Linked DNA regions of Homo sapiens: all the other regions are reported to be linked to region 1. Evidence: microRNA targets listed by miRTarBase, many of them from high-throughput screens and not tested one by one. Region 1 holds a microRNA gene; each other region holds the end of a gene's coding sequence.

Region 1 (4,586 bases):
CCTGGTGCCCCACTAATACTCCTCCTAAAGGGCTGTATGGCCTCTGGCTGTGCCGGGGGACTACAGGACACAGGGTGTGTGGGGGGGCATCCTGCGAGGTGCACCACAGCCCCCCGTACACACCTCCAGGGAATTGGGGGGCTACCCTGCCTCCCCTCCTTGTAGGAGTCCTTAGCCCTCCAGCCCCACTGGAGGATGGGGAGAATGGGTTGGAAACCCCACCCCCAAAGACTAGCAGTTACCAGTAACTTAAAGAAGTTAACTTAGTAACTTCTTTATAACTTTTTCTTCCTTCCCCTGGGCGGGGGAGTGGCCAGGTGCCCCTGGGTTCTTTGTGTGTGTGTGTGTCCAGGCGGGAGGTTGCTGATGCTCCAGCTGTCTCTGAAAGGAGTGTGGTAGTCCCAGGCTCATGGGCTGGTTGCGGGGGTAGGGGGGAAGGATCATGCCCCCCGGCCCCCAGCTCTGGTCTCCCTCCAAGAGTTTTCACATCGGTTGTCTTAGTGGAACCCCCATTGAATGGATGAGCAAACTGAGGTGTGAAGCCACCTGCCCATCCAGTTATTTATAAAGACATGCACCAGGCCAGGGAGTGGTGGCTCATGCCTGTCATCCCAACAGTTTGGGAGGCCAAGACAGGCGGATCACCTGAGGTCAAGAGTTCGAGACCAGCCTGGCTAACATGGTGAAACCCTGTCTCTACTAAAAATACACACACACACACACACACACACAAAATTAGCTGGGCATGGTGGCGGGTGCCTGTGATCCCAGCTACTCAGGAGGCTGAGGCAGAAGAATTGCTTGAACCCAGGAGGCAGAGGTTGCGGTGAGCCAAGATCAAGCCACTGCACTCCAGCCTGGGAAACAGAGTAAGACTCTGTCTCAAAACAACAACAACAAAAAGCACCACATCTGCCTCCTTCTTCTAGTTACTGGGGCCCCCTGAGGCTAGGTGCTGGGGAGGGAGCCCTTTCCTGGCGGGGGCTGCAGAGGGGTGAGAAAGAACCCTCTGGAGTTGGGAGGTGGGGGATAGCAAGTTGGGCTGTTAGGAGGGGACCCCTAGTACCTACAGGTCTTCAGTGTCCTCCCCGAGATGAGATCTCAGCTCAGTCCCAGGAGGGGAGGGTGTGCTCAGGACTTGGACACAGAGGAGAGACGCTGTGCCGCTTACACAGCTCATCCACCCATCCATTCATTTAAGAAACTTTTATTGGCCAGGCACTGTGGCTCATTTTGAGAGGCCGAGGAGGATTGCTTGAACCTAGGAGTTGGAGACCAGCCTGGGCAACGTTTTGAGACCCTGTTCCTACAAAAACACTTTTTCGAAATAAGCTAGGTGTGGTGGTGCGTGCCCGTGGTTCCGGCTACTGGGGAGGCTGAGGCGGGAGGATCAACGCTTGACTCCAGTTATTAGAGGCTGCAGTGAGCTAAGGTCACACCATTGCACTCCAGCCTGGGTGACAAGAGCGAGATCCTGTCTCTAATTTAAAAAACAAAACTATGGAGCACTCCACGGAGCAGAACTTACCACCCACATTTCAGAAAGGGGTTTTAGGCCAGGCAAAGTGGCTCATGCCTGTAATCCCAGCACTTTGGGAGGCCGAGGGGGGAGGATTACTTGAGGTCAGGAGTTTGAGACCAGCCTGGCCAACACAGTGAAATCTCGTCTCTACTAAAAATACAAAAATTAGCCCACTGTGGTGGCAGATGCCTGTAATCCCAGCTACTTGGGAGGCTGAGGCCAGAGAATCACTCAAACCCTGGAGGCAGAGGTTGCAGTGAGCTGAGATTGGGCCACTGCACTCCAGCCTAGGCAACAGAGTGAGACTCTGTCTTAAAAAAAAAAAAAAAAGGGGATTTTAGCTGCCCTGCCCCAGCCTGTTTACCCCCAACCCTCTAATATTTAGTCCCAAATCCAGCCAGAGCCCATCCAGATTCCAGACACCAGCTCTCCTCTCCAAAGAGGAGTGGTTGGGGTCAGGGCAAAAAACAGGCTGAGTGACTGTGGCGGTGGGGGGTCCTGTCCCCAGTCCCCATTCCCCTTAAGCCGTGTCTGGCCCAGCCACAGTGACATTCATCCCCCGGTGGGTCTGGCCTCAGTCCTCACAACCCACCGACAACAATGAATGTTGATTGTGACCTCGGCTGTGGCCTAGGGGAGGGGACGTGCCCAGGCTGGATTGGGGGCTCCCCAGGCCCCCCTAGATCTGGAAGGTCAGAGTCACCGGCAGGAGGATGGCAATTCCAGGCCTCAGGGTCCACTCAACGGTCGATGGTTTGCCTGAGCTGCCCAAACTCACCGACAGGTTGAATGTTCCCCCAAACCCTTGGCAAATTTTCCGGGACCTGGAGTCGGGGGTGGGGTAGGTGGCAGGGAACCAGAGAGCATGAAGAGGGAGAGGAGGAGAGAGTAAGGAACCCCTTTTCTCTCATGAAATAAACAAACGCTTTTCAGGTGCTGTTTGCACCTAGATCTGGGAAAAACACAAGGCAAATATAAATGCTAGTAAATAAAATGTAGCCTTTGCTATGGGGATGGAGATGTAGCAGTGCAGGGGAGTGCTGGCCTCAAGCCCGCTCCTTAAGTAATTCACAAAGTGATCCTGGAGGTGCAGATTACCCCCCTTTGTCAACTGGGGAGACTGAGGCCAAAGGCCACTGCTAGTCCGAGGTGGAGGAGGCATTCCAAGTGTTCCCGGGAAGTCTGGCAACGGAGGATCCTGGCCCCGAGGGCATTGATGCAACGTGGAGATAAACAAGCCATTTTAATACAATGTAATACGTTCTGGGAGCTTCACTGAGTTCCGGGCACGATGGTTTAGGAATCACAACAGCGTGAGTGGAGCGCTTGGGGGTGGGGGGTCGTCAGGTCTCTCCACTTTACAAGTGCACTGGGGCCCCACTAGACAGGGGAGAGGCAGGAGGTTCAGAGAGGGCGCCGCTCGCCCCGCGTGCGCGGTCACACAGCATCTGAACTCGGGCACTTCCGGAGGGAGTCCGCGCAGCCACGTGGGGGCTGCCCCTTGGGCCTCAAAACCGGCTGCGGCGCCCCCTCTCCATTTCCTCATCCCTCAAATGACCCCCAGTCCCTTCCTCCAGTGATCGCACAGAGTTCGGCGACCACCCCCCCGCCCCGGGTGCCCCCAGGCCTACAGGTACGCACCCCTATCTCCCACCCCCCGCAAGCCAAGCAGTGACGACCAGGGATGGGCGAGCGCGCCTTCGCCCCTGACCTGGGTCTGCGGACGGCCTAGGAAGGTGCACCCGGCATGGCCGGGTGCTGCGGCTCAGGCCTGTAATTCAGTATTTTGGGAGGCTGAGGCGGGAGGATCTTTTGAGCCCAGGAGATGGAGACCAACCTGAGCAACATAGCGAGATACCTGTCCCTACAAAAAAATTAGCTGGGTGTGGTGTAGTGAGCCTGTAGTCTTAGCTACTTAGGAGGCTGAGATGGGAGGATCGCTTGGACCCCAAGAGTTCGAGGCTCGAGGCTGCAGTGAGCCGTGATCGCGCCACTGTATTCCAGCCTGGGTCACAGGACGAGACCCCGTCGTCGCAAAAAAATAAGTAATTTCCTGGCCCCTGGCATTTCACCGAGGGGAATACTGAGGCCCAAAATAACCGCCTGGCATAACCCCAAGGTAGATGAGGGACCCCCAAGTGTGCCGAGCTGCGTGAACCACCCCCCCACCACACCCCTCACGGTGGTGGCAACGGAACCCGGCCGAGCCCCCGAGGACGCGCCCCCGAGAGCCCCGCCCCCGAGAGCCCCACCCACAGTCTGGAGCCACCAGCCAAGGCCCCAGCCCAGGCCCTGCCCCTTAGAGCCCCGTCGCTTTTGACCTGTTCCCCAGAACACACTCCCTCTAAAACCCGCCCATATAGACTCCCACGGAGCCCACCGCCAAACCCCTAAGCCAGTCCTCAAAGAGCCCAGCTCCCTTAGGGCCCGCCCCCTTAGAGCCCTCCACAAAAGCCTGCTCTATAGACGCCCCGGGACTGCGTCCTGCCCCCACGAAGCCCAACCCCCCACTAAGGTCCGCCCCGACCGGGCACGCCCCCAAACCGAATTTCGTAGGGCCCCTCAAGCCCGATCCCGGCTAACTCGCCCTCCCGAAGCCCCCCTCCCGCCTCCCGGCACCTTCTAGAGCCCTTTCCCCAGAGCCCGCCCTCTCACCCGCCCCGGGTCGGGGTCACGTTCCCACCCCTCTGTCTGGAGCTGGAGTGGGGCGCCCTCTCTCGCAGCTCATCCGCCACGTCCAGCAGATCCTCCCATTCAGGCTGTGGAGTGGGGGGGCCTGATCGGCTTCTCTTTATCCGCCACCTCCACCCCAGGTGTCCAGGCCCTTCCGAGGGAGGTGGCCGGTCCCCTGCCTTGTGGATCATCATTCTAAGGAGGAGAACGCCTAGGACTTGGGAAGGAGAGTGAGTTGGGAGCACAGGTGTTAATAATTACATTACTGATGATAACGCTACATTCATCACGCTGTGAGCAGGATATACCCATTTTGTGGACTGGGAAGGTAAGTGGCTCTGTTAGTCCAGAACTCTCAAGATTCCTCAAAAGCTTGGTTCTTGTCTGTAGT
Region 2 (4,000 bases), not on the chromosome of region 1:
TGTAAACTCAACAAATGTACCTAGACAATTTCATACTTGCTTCACTTAGACTTAAGACAGCTTTATTTTATTTTTGTTCATTTTATTTATTTATTTATTTATTTTTTTGAGATGAAGTCTCGCTCTGTCCCCCAGGCTGGAGTGCAATGGCATGATCTCAGCTCACTGCAACCTCCGCCTCCCAGGTTCAAGTGATTCTCCTGCCTCAGCCTCCCGAGTAGCTGGGATTACATCCACCACCATGCCTGGCTAATTTTTTCATTTTTAGTAGAGATGGGGTTTGACCATGTTGGCCAGGCTGGTCTCAAACTCCTGACCTCAGGTGATCCGCCTGCCTTGGCCTCCCAAAGTGCCGGGATTACAGGTGTGAGCTGAGCCTTAAGACAGCTTTTAGAAAGACAGATCTATTGTACTACATTGCAATCTAATTTTTCTTACTATTCCATTTCTTCCCTCCCTTCAGGTTGGACTAGTACTACAATAGATGGATATTTTTATTTCTAGAACTCTGACATCATCATTTGTTAATATTTAATGATTTCTGGAACTGCCATTCCAAAGAAGAATAAAAGCACAACTCAAGTGAAATTGAAGTAGTCGATAATCAGAAAAGATGACAAAAGTCCACATGTGACATTTGTACGTTTCTAGCTAGAATGTTAAACTTCATCCTTTTTTTACTGTTGACCTATTTGTGGGAGGGATGAAAGGCTACAAAGAGCACATTCTTGTAATTTTCAAATTTTTGCCTGTCTCTTGAAGAGGTATTTTTTCACCCTTAGAAAAGGGACTGTTTTTCTATGGACTAAGTAGAAGTTACAGAGTCATGTAAGAAAATCTTTGCTATTGTGTGGAGAGAAATTGCTGCATTTCTGTTTCTTAAGTGATGGTACATTTGTCCATGTAACAGAACAAAAGATCCATTTGGAAATTTTTTTTACTGGTATCACCTTACATGGTATCACTGGGAACATTTATGGAATCAACACTTCTGTAGCTCAGTGACAGGTGGTGGTTGTTTAAGTGCAGAGCAATATTAAAATGTACTGGTGACTAGTACATGTATTTCTCCATAAGCAGAGTTGCCGAATCAATAAACATGCAAGTTTGTACTTTGATCTTTACCAGGTCAGTGGATTGCTTCAAAAGCAGAGTTTTGTGCAAGCACTCACTGTGCTCTCTGAAAGAGCCTGAGGCCGGGCGTGGTGGCTCACGCCTGTAATCCCAGCACTTTGGGAGGCCAAGGTGGGCAGATCATGAGGTCAGGAGATCGAGACCATTCTGGCCAACATAGTGAAACCCCATCTCTACTAAAAATACAAAAATTAGCCGGGCGTGGTGGCGTGTGCCTGTAGTCCCAGCTGCTTGGGAGGCTGAGGCAGGAGAATCGCTTGAACCTGAGAGGTGAGGTTGCAGTGAGCCGAGATCGAGCCACTGCACTCCAGCCTGGGTGACAGAGCGTGAGACTCCGTCTCAAAAAAAAAAAAAAAGAAAGAGCCTGTACCCGCGACTAACTAGACTTTTCTGCTGTTGTGCAAAGTTCAGTTTCTTCTCAGCAACATCAAGGATATATGAAGAAAAGGAAATAAAAAACTGTAAAGTCAAAAGAGATGCCTGGTGGAACTTATTCGTGCTATCAGGGCATTGATAGTTTGAATGTTTTTATTACTTATGCAAAATTGCACATACTCCTCTATGCTGATTTTATCATGAAAACTGTCATGTGTCATGCTAATGGAAAATGTCTTATTTGTAAATAAGTATTCATAATTTTGTTACTGATGGTGTTTTTAATCTAGAATTTGAAAAACTTTCATGGCTTACAGATGTGTGTTTATATTGCCAATAATCTGCGGGAAAAATAAGATGCTAACCGAGGCCACGTAGCCTGGCCTCAACTCAGATACCACAAAGTAGATGCCTTGGCTGGGTGTGGTGGCTCACGCCTGTAATCCCAGCACTTTGGGAGGCCAAGGCGGGCGAAACATTTGAGGTCAGGGGTTCGAGACCAGCCTGGCCAACATGGTGAAACCCCATCTCTACTAAAAATTCAAAAAGAACTAGCTGGGTGTGGTGGCGGGTGCCTGTAATCCCAGCTGCTAGGAGGCTGAGGCAGGAGAATCACTTGAACCCAGGAGGCGGAAGTTGCAGTGAGCCAAGATCGTGCCACTGCACTCCAGCCTGGGTGACAGTGCAAGACTCCGTCTCAAAAAACAAAAGTAGATACTTTTCCCTGCTTTTACTGGGCCAGTGCCTAGGAAGTTCAGTGCAGAAGTTAATTGTTTTAGACATGATGGCATTTCCTTCAAGTTATGAGTCCAGTGAAACCAATCATATCTTATCCCAGGCAGGGGCCACCAAACTATGGCCTGTGGGCTAAATCCAGCCCATTGCTTATTTTTGTGTAGCCCACAGGCTAAGAATGTTTTTATTTTCTGGAATGGTTGAGGAGAAAAAGCCAAAAAATGACATCATTTTGTGACATGTGCAAATTACACAAAATTCAAATTCCGGTGTCCCTCAATAAGGTTTTATTGGAACATAGCCATACTTTTTTTTTTTTTTTTTTTAGGACAGGGTCTCACTCTATTGTCCAGGCTAGAATACAGTGGCACAGTCAACAGCTCACTGCAGCCCCAAACTCCTGGGTTAAAATGATCCTCCTGCTTCAGCGTCTTTTTGAAGAAAAAGAACTAGCTGGGCGTGCATACCACCACGCCTGGCTAAGTTTTTCATTTTTTGTAGAGACAAGGTCTTGCTATGTTTCCCGTGCTGGTCTTTAACTCCTGGCCTCAAGTGATCCTTCTGCCTTGGCCTCCCAAAGTACTGGGATTATAGACATGAGCCACCACTCTTGGCCACAGCCACTTTCATTTACATATTGCCTATGGCTGCTTCACACTACAAAGCTGAGTTGAGTTGTTGTGACAGATTGTGTGGCCTGCAAAGCCTAAGATATTCACTCTCTGGTCTTTTACAGAAAGTTTGTTGACCTTGGTCACTACGAAGGAGTTGGAACTCTCCTTTCTATAGGTTGCCGTGATTCTAAAGACCAACCCACAGCTGTGACATCCCTGAGACTACCACCAGAGGGCGACTGGGCCCCACAGTAGTACATAATATAGGACCTCTCTTGGAGATAATGGAAGACTTGGAATTTCAGATGGTTCCACCCTAATTGCATTAGCGTTCTTTCTTAACAGGAGAAAGGCTTCAAGAAACAAAACAGTCCTCATTCACTGGAACAGGGTTTGAGATACCAGCATTAAGTAAATGAGATTTTGACTTAACCTGGAGTCAAGGCTCTAATTTAGGACTTTACTTCCCACTCATTTTCATGCCACAAAGTCTATACAAAGTAGGTTTTCAAATAATTGCAGAATCAGCCAGGCACGGTGGCTCACACCTGTAATCCCTGCACTTTGGGAGGCCAAGGTGAGCAGATCACTTGAGGTCAGGAGTCTTGAGACCAGCCTGGCCAACATGGTGAAGCCCTATCTCTACTAAAATTACAAAAACTAGCCGGACATGGGGGTGTGCACCTGTAATCCCAGCTATTCAGGAGGCTGAGGCAGGAGAATCGCTTGAACCCAGGAGGCGGGGTTGCAGTGAGCCGGGATCACACCACTGCACTCCAGCCTGGGCAACAGAGTGAGACTCTATCTCGAAAGTAAAATAAATAACTGCAGCATTGCCAGTTGGAAACTTTGTCATGAGCTTACCTCACGGTGACAGTTACACTGCTCCTTTAAAGAGTCATTTACATAATTTGTTATCAAATTATTAACCACTTTTAAATAGAATAATAACTACATTTGCCTCCATAATTGAAGCAGATTACTAATTAACATTTTCGAGAATTAAACTGCTTGCTTATGAAGTAGCTATTAAAACTAAATTGAAATGCAATGGATAGTTTCTTGTAGATTTAAAACTGCATTGTACTGTACTTTGTCTATAATGAAAATGTTCTATTCAATAAGGTATCTTTTTTTCTTCT
Region 3 (4,000 bases), not on the chromosome of region 1:
TCAGCCACAACCCAGATGGAACATGATGCTTGTACCCTACAAAGTGCGTGAGGAGCTAAACGGACGATGTACCTGACAGCACTTTGAAACTATAAAGCACTATGCAAGCATATTCTACCATTTCTTTCAAACACTTGAATGCATTTTTACCATTTCTGATTGTTGCACAGGTAAAACAGATTTTCCTTTATTTATTGCAGAATTTCTGCTAAATTATAAACGCAATATATGCTAGAAAATTGTGACCATACTTCTTTGACCAAGATCCATTCATTTTGTGCACAAGAAAAATGTTTTGACCCCAGAAGTGGTTTGGGCTCAGGGATTGGGATTTTTCACACTGAAAACCAATGGTGCATTGTAGAATAGATGAAGGGAAACAGGGAAACTTTCCCTGTTTTGGCATTTCACTGATAATTTCAAAATCTTTGAGTTGCTCCTTCACAGATCAGCTCCCTACACACTTTACACTCTCGTTGTGTAAGTGCATCCTGGCTTCAACACTTGACCAGTATTGACATACTATTACTTGCCATTGCTTCCCAATAGAAACAGCATTGATGTAATTTTTTTTAGCCACACTATCATCTATATATGAAGCCATTATTGAATCTCCCAGATGGAAAAAGCTGTTCTCTTCTCTCTTCATTCCTTGATTGTAGAACTTACCAAATTTTATTAAAAACACTTTTTTGAACCTTGGAGTCTACTCTACTACACTGTGAGCTGAGCTTTTCAAAGGCAGATTTAGACTCTTGTAGCTCCATCGTCAAACAAACATCAAACTGGCACAGAGGGAATGCCAATGATGTGCTTGTTCTCTCATCTAAGAGATGTTCTGCATACATATATGATGTATTAAGAGTGTCTTCTATAGTATAAAGAGCATCACTTAAAATAAGACCAGAAAGCCTAGTTATCTGGGTTCACAGTCCAGAAGAAAATATTTATGGATATTTCTAATTGTAGAGTACATGAAAGTCTAATTTATTCTGTGGAAATGTTATTTAATATTTTATATAGTTATTACTGGCTGTTTTGTTTTACTAAGAAAGAATAATAGATAAGTTAGCATGGTGTTCTGATATGATAAGTACATCTTTGATAATTCCCAATCTGAGAACAGTATCAACTAGATGATTATACTAATTAAGAATGTCTACATACATTAAAGTGTACTGTTATTTGGGAAAAAGTTGGATGCCTTAATAAAGAAATATATTTGTTAGAAATAATTAAAGAGATACATTTTATTTCAAATATCTTTTACCTAATAATATGAAATACCATAACTAAATGTCTCAAACCAAAATGAAGGATAACATGGTCTTTGAATGTATTTTTGAAAGAAATGCAACCTTTATCTGCTGCTTGGAGAATGCCAGCCCTGAAACATCTTGTATACCATCAAATATGTGACTTAAAAAAAAGTGTGTTATACTACTTTTCCTTATAATGAAAAGAATACAAACAAGTGAAAAGTTTGCAAAATTAAATATATACTTGTATTCATGATCAATAAGTACAAACTAACATTTCCAGTTAAAAGTTTTTCTTTTTTTCTCTTCCAATTATAGAATACAGAGAGCTCTTCCTTTCTTATTTCCAGATTTCTATAACCCTTTTTCAGAACATTTCTTCACACTGCAGTACGTGCCTTTAGTGCAGGAGTGTAACATAAGTGGTATTCCTCTTGAGGGTCCCAGTAGTAAACATAGCTTAACTCACAGGAGAGCAATCAGTTCTTACAAAACACCTATGAAAACTATGCATATGACCTCTATAAAATGTAAGATTGCCAACATCCCATAATAGGAATTCCATGGCTGCTTATAAATATAGATCTCAAAGAAATGTTTGGGCAATGCCTGTAAACCCATAGGCTGGCAAACCATATGTCAATCCAATGCTTTTATGACCCCCAATTTAACTTCACTCTATTGAAAATCTGATTAGTCAAGAAATAAACAAAGATGTGGAGTAATCCCAAAAGCAATTAAAATGAAGAATACCTTCTCATAAAATTAAGCAGAAGTAAGACTAGTGATGTCATGCAGTTTTGGAGATGCCATAGAAAAACTGTCTCTTAATATTAATAAGAAAATTATGCATCAGTGAAAATGCAGGCTTAGAAATATAGTTCTGAGTTTCAATTTGTGGTGTCTTCACTGATGAGGGAAAATGGAATTCTTACTACTGATCTCTTCAGTGTTGCTGATGGCTCCTTAACTGAGCTTAGTGTTTAATGATGCTGTACAAATAAAAAGCAGTGGGGGAAATACGAAATATCTGTATTAAATGCCATCCTGTAAAGTATTTGATGGATGGAAGAGAGTCTAATGCATTTTAAATAAATGCATATCATACTATCACATATAGTGAATCTTAAAAAATTATTACTTAGATGCACAGTCCTTGTAGTGGTAGACACGGCACTGTGAAGGAAGTTTGATTTAGAAGCTATTTTCTATTATACTTCTCAAGTGATGGAGTTGCTGTTAGTCATATTGTAATGTCCCTTCACCTTTGGTACATTCAGTGCAAAATATTTGGGGAATTTTTTTTACCTTTATAAAAATAAAAGGCCCTTTTGTTTCCTTGAGAGTGCTTAAAAGGATACATATTAGCATGATGCCCGAGTATGCATGGAACATGAAAATGGAATGAGTGATACATACAGCATGATAGGTAGGTTCTTATATACATCTTAAAGAACATAAACATAATGAACCTACAAAAAATAAACAGAACTCACTGTGTACTTTTTCCTGATATGCTGTGATTAATTGCTAGTTATTTTAAAATTGTTTTCATGCATTATAAAGCATAAAATCTGTCATTAGTAATTCACTGAATAATGGTTTGTCTTTAGCCATAATTACACACATACCACTTGCATATACATTGTCACAGACCATCTTATTGCAAATCTGTAAAGGTACCTCATATTGACTTGGTTTCATTTTCACTCATGTCCCATGAAAGCGGAAACCTATGGTGCACACCATGCAGGCACTCATAAGCAAGAAATGAATATTCTGTTATAACTTAGGGCTTAAATGAATGTACTTTCAGGAAATATATTTACTTTTATTATATTATTTAACTTGCTCTAATTTGGAGATTGGGCCAAATGCTGCCAGTTTGGCTTGAACCACGTTCAAGGGTAAGTTTCAAGATTCTCCTGAGTCCCTAAAAATTACCGTGGAGCTGATCATGTATGGGTTCATCTTTGTCTTGGAACATAACAAATGGAAAAAGTTTGGCAGTCAAGAACTGTTGATTGAAAGACGGTTGGGTTGTTCCCTGGGCATCAAGCTCACCCAAATCCTTCCAAGAGGACTCATCTCCAGTCCCCAAATGTGACAGAGCACTTGTTCCTGGAAAACAACAGCACATAGCTTTATCCTAAAGGAAGCATCCTCTTGAAACTTCCAATGTTCAATCATTCTTCTAGAAGGCAGCTTCTGAACCTGCCTGTCCACAGAGATGGGCATTCAGCTTCCAGGTCACTCAAGTCCAAAAGTACTGGTTTCTTCAACTGCTGTCAACAGTTTTTCATAAAGCATGGAAAAGGATGGGTAGGGAGGCAGATCCAGACGGTTAAAACATGTATGCGCTCTGAAAACACAAGAAACAGCACATAGTTTAGAACAGGCCGAGTGAAATGAAAATGTGTGTGGTGTGTGTGTGTGTGTGTGTCTGTGTGTGTATGACTGTCTTTCACATTCAAATTTATTTGTTGCCAATTTTCACACTCCTTTTGAAAAATCTTTGAAAACATTTTGACCTTAAAAATTCAGAACTGAATTTCTCTAAGGAAAAGAGGATATTTAAAAAAATATTTTATTTACATTTCACCACCATTTAAAAGCTATATTACATATAAATGACCATTTATTGAGTGGTCTAAGGATTACAAAGACAAGTTTGGTTTTTGTTTCTCTTTTGATGCTAGATTTTTTTTTTAATACACGGACATAAGGCCTTGCAAAGTAGT
Region 4 (4,000 bases), not on the chromosome of region 1:
ATAAAATTCTCCCCTAATGTGATTGTGACATAAATTCATGTGTGGGAAAGAAGGGGCAGACAGGAAACTGAATGCTTAATTCCTTAAGGAAATAATTTAAAATGTTCAAGGCTTCTTGTTTGACTTTCATTGATAGTCACTATTTCAAGTTCACTTGTGCTTTGAATCAGCAAGTTCCATAAGGCTGCAGGCTTTCCATGACACATGTTTTCTTTTCTCCAAGGAGTCAGAGTATTCATCGAAAAGAAAGCACAGCTAACACTTTTAGGAACAGAAATGGACTATGTTGAAGACAAATTATCCAGTGAGTTTGTGTTCAATAACCCAAACATCAAAGGGACTTGTGGCTGTGGAGAAAGCTTTAATATTTGAAATCTCAGGACTCTTCTGGCCGTAGGTTCCAGGAAAGCTCGTGGAAGCTTTGGGGCTCACTGCAGAAATCATGTGACTGTCACGTGCTGGAAAATAAAGTGATACATCTTGAAAATGAATCCAGTGTGTTGGATTCCAGAAGAAATGATATTTATATTCTCTATAGGGGACAGAAAATGAGAAGCCATCACTCTTTTTGGATCATTTAGGTCTCTTGTATCCTTTGTTTTAGAACCAGTTTCATTAAAGTTGCCTTCCTGGGCACCTGTTTATCCATTTCCTGAACTGTGTGCACTCCTTAGATCGCTATTGATGGCTTGATCATCCCTCAGCATTTCTCCCAACCAGATCGGTGACTCCTAAAATCTGAGACAGGACATCGTGACTGCTGGTAGTAATATGGTGGTGCATTGTTTTTTCCACCCAAACTTAACATAGCCTTTTTATACATTTTTATGAAAAATTTCATTGTCAGCTGCCTCACTGCATACTCTTTAATAGTACCAGGCAAAGATTTTCTTCAACTATAGTACAGATTAGTTCTGAGTGATGGTATCAAAAGGTGAGAAAGACGTCATCCGCCTTTTTTTAATCCATTTCTTTTGCCACCCTATATGTCTGTTCAGAGATGGGCTCTCAAGCTGACTTTGATTCTTTTAGTTGAGAAGTCTCTTAAAGCCATCTAGCCCACCTCCATCAATTCCCTATGTGAGGAAGCAAAACCCCAGGGAAGCCAAAGGGCTCCTGTCCACCCTGACACCACAGGCCGGGGGAGAGTAGGGACTCTACCCCCCTCTCCCCTTGTAGGTGACACATGCTCTGCCCTCTGAGGCAGTCAGCGAAGGCAAATGGTCTGACTTCTTTATGTGGTCAACATTTTGATAGAATTTCTTTATAATTTGATAGAGATTATATTATTTTTATTTTATTTTGAGTGGGAAGAATTTTAAAACCTTTTTATGTCAATTACCATCTTGTTTCTTTCACCTTTGAAACAATGGTTTGTAGCAGAGATGACATTGTAGCAACCCAGAATTATGCTTTTGGAATGTGGTCCTCACTGTACAGGAGAATGTGTAATCTTTTGTTAAAATTCCCAGTGTGCATACATTTTCTGGTTCCTCGGTCCAGTTGCTAAAGTTCTTAGTATTTTAGCCTAACATATTTATCACCAACTTTTCTTTAAAAGTGTTCCTTTTGTCACTTAGTTACTGATTTTCCTGGGTTTGACATAAGTATTCTATGAGATGATATATATGCTTTTTTTGAAAGCTGATTCTCATGAATTCAAGTAGCTGAGTTCCTTTATGTTTCGTTTATTCACTAAAGTAGCTGACACAAAACACACCAAAACCTAGAGCGGTAGTTTTATGTAAATGCTCATGAGTTTGTATCAATAATATAATTGTTGATCCACTTATAATTCGTGCAACACTGTATGTATGTAGAGATTGAGTTGTCAATTAAAAAAAATGTGGCCTCTTTGTGATCATAAAATTGCCTTTTATTATTGAGGGGAGAGGGTTTGGGACAGCAGCTGCTAAAGCCAATAAAAAAATGACTGTCTTTTTTGCCTAGGCTGCCTGTCACCAGGCGTCCTCCCTACCTGACACTGTTTCGTCCAGAGTCCTAGCTGCTGATTCTCCACACAGCCCTGGAGAGACCATCTCAGGTGTCTCTCATCTCCCTGGCTTTGCTAGCCTCTTTTTCCTCCTTGTTCCCCATGAGGGTCATCCATCCCCCAAGCAGGTTCCTCATGTCCTTAGGACGAGAGCATTATCACTACCTGGAGTGCTTTTCCCTCTGTCATCTGAGCTTTTATGTGAACCTCCTCCAAGAAGGTTCTCAGCTGTTCACTCAGGCACAGTAGTGAGCACTGACTCTCCACTAGCCCTGAGCTTTCACAGGTCATCAAAGACAGTCCCAACCTCAGAGAGCTTCAAGTCGGCAAATGAGACACCAGCGAAGAGCATCGATCACCATGGTAAGTGTTGTGAGCAGCTGGTGGTGATGGCATGCTCACTGCATGCCAGGAAGTGTTCTAATAAACATCATCTCAGCAATCGAGAATGCAGGTCTGACTACTGTCTTTTTCATAGATAAACCAAAACACAGCTTAAATAAAATAGCTAAGGTGGCCAAGTCAGAATCGTACCCTGTGTCTATGGCTCCAGATGCTGTGCTCCCAGCTGTTAGGCCATACTGCGTGTCCTGATAGAACCAACGGAGTGCGCTTCTAAAAAGGTAGCCTACAGGTTATGACCCCTGCGCCTAGTTGAAAGAGATTTGGGGAAGAGGGAAGACAGTGAACAGTACTAAAGAGGGTTGAAAAAACACAGAGGGCGTGTTCTCACTCATAGGTGGGAATTGAACAATGAGAACACTTGGACACAGGGCAGGGAACATCACACACCAGGGCCTGTCGTGGGGGAGGGATAGCATTAGGAGATATACCTAATGTAAATGACGAGTTAATGGGTGCAGCACACCAACACGGCACATGTATACATAAGTAACAAACCTGCACGTTGTGCACATGTACCCTAGAACTTAAAGTATAATAAAAAGTAATAATAAAAACACAGTGAAGCTAAGCACTCCGGAGAATGAGGCCCGGAGAGGAGCAGTAAGGCTGGAGGGCAAGGTAGATGCCTGGGGCGTTTGGGCTTTCTGCAAGTTCTGTAGGCCTTGGGGCCACTGAAAGTGTTTAGGGGCACTCATTAGAAAATTGCATTTGGAAGTGTTTCCATGGCCTGGACTAGGCTGGCTGATGAGGACAGGAAGAAGCTACTGCAAAGCCCGCTATAATAGGACCTGAGCAGGGACCCGTGAGAGAAAGGCTTAGGAGGCAGAAAGGATGGTACTCTATCCGTAGCCCAACCTCATCAGCCAGTGTTCTGTGACTCATTTCTATTTGTACAGGCAGTACTTGTACTGTTCATTGGTTTTGGTTCTTGTCTCTTGTACAATATTGAAAGGATCTTGGAGACAGGAACGCAATTGCTTCTTCAGTGTTCGTTTAGCATCGGGCAGGTCAGAATTATTTTTGCAAAATGGCTCCATCCTACGGCCATGTCACACCATGTCATGCAAGCCTTAGCCCTCACCAGGAAGGTTCTGTCTGTTGCACCACATTCATCCACATTCTACTCACAAACACTGGTCATTGTGTTAGGCGATTTGGTAGTGCCCCTGGGTGATGTGTAGGCCAGCAGATCTGTCGCTTAGCAGCAGACTTCAGGCTTTTCATGATCAGTTATAAGCCCACTCTTCCACATCAGGATGCTAAATTGAATGAATCAGGCCATGAGGACAGAGGCCTGCTGTGCTTCATTGTTGCAGGGCGCCTCCCAGCCCTCTGTCACCGGACCCACCAGAATGATTTTTTTTTTCTCAAACAGGAAAGGGTTGGGAACAATCCCTACAAGATCAGATGTCCCTAAGATTTCCAGTATTTCCTAGGTTTCACTCAGCAGGAAATACCTCAAAAAAAAAATGGCCTTTCTTGTCATGTTTTGATACCTGAGAAATCAGGAAATGGAAAAGCCTGTGCTAAGCTGAGCTGTAAGCAACATCAGTGTCTCATTTGAGCCTTAGAGCAGACGTGGCATGGGCCAGACACAGCATC

The links. Region 1 holds the annotated microRNA hsa-miR-181c-5p (AACAUUCAACCUGUCGGUGAGU, at 2,295-2,316, opposite strand). A microRNA usually pairs through its seed, bases 2 to 8, with sites in the 3' UTR of a target mRNA and lowers its output. Matches are read on the target gene's strand: a 7mer-m8 pairs with bases 2 to 8, a 7mer-A1 pairs with bases 2 to 7 and ends in A, and an 8mer does both.
Region 2: miRTarBase lists NMT2 as a target of hsa-miR-181c-5p. Seed matches in the 3' UTR shown: 7mer-m8 at 1,654-1,660.
Region 3: miRTarBase lists HECW2 as a target of hsa-miR-181c-5p. Seed matches in the 3' UTR shown: 8mer at 2,531-2,538.
Region 4: miRTarBase lists ISCA1 as a target of hsa-miR-181c-5p. The part of its 3' UTR that is shown has no 7-base or 8-base seed match.

Annotation. Positions count from the first base shown.
Region 1 is chr19:13,872,455-13,877,040 of GRCh38, reverse strand. It overlaps MIR181C (microRNA 181c), which reads right to left and starts at 2,342; the gene lies at 2,233-2,342. It overlaps MIR181D (microRNA 181d), which reads right to left and starts at 2,166; the gene lies at 2,030-2,166. It also overlaps a transcript of NANOS3 not described here. RefSeq lists a silencer at 4,067-4,206.
Region 2 is chr10:15,105,679-15,109,678 of GRCh38, reverse strand. It overlaps NMT2 (N-myristoyltransferase 2), which reads left to right. Exons shown (of 12, transcript NM_004808.3): 12 at 464-3,909. The coding sequence ends at 484. Among named protein-coding and RNA genes, the nearest start is that of RPP38, 10 kb to the right of the region's middle.
Region 3 is chr2:196,197,768-196,201,767 of GRCh38, forward strand. It overlaps HECW2 (HECT, C2 and WW domain containing E3 ubiquitin protein ligase 2), which reads right to left. Exons shown (of 29, transcript NM_001348768.2): 29 at 1-3,621. The coding sequence ends at 3,510. Among named protein-coding and RNA genes, the nearest start is that of STK17B, 28 kb to the left of the region's middle.
Region 4 is chr9:86,262,415-86,266,414 of GRCh38, reverse strand. It overlaps ISCA1 (iron-sulfur cluster assembly 1), which reads left to right. Exons shown (of 4, transcript NM_030940.4): 4 at 224-1,869. The coding sequence ends at 372. Among named protein-coding and RNA genes, the nearest start is that of C9orf153, 4.8 kb to the right of the region's middle.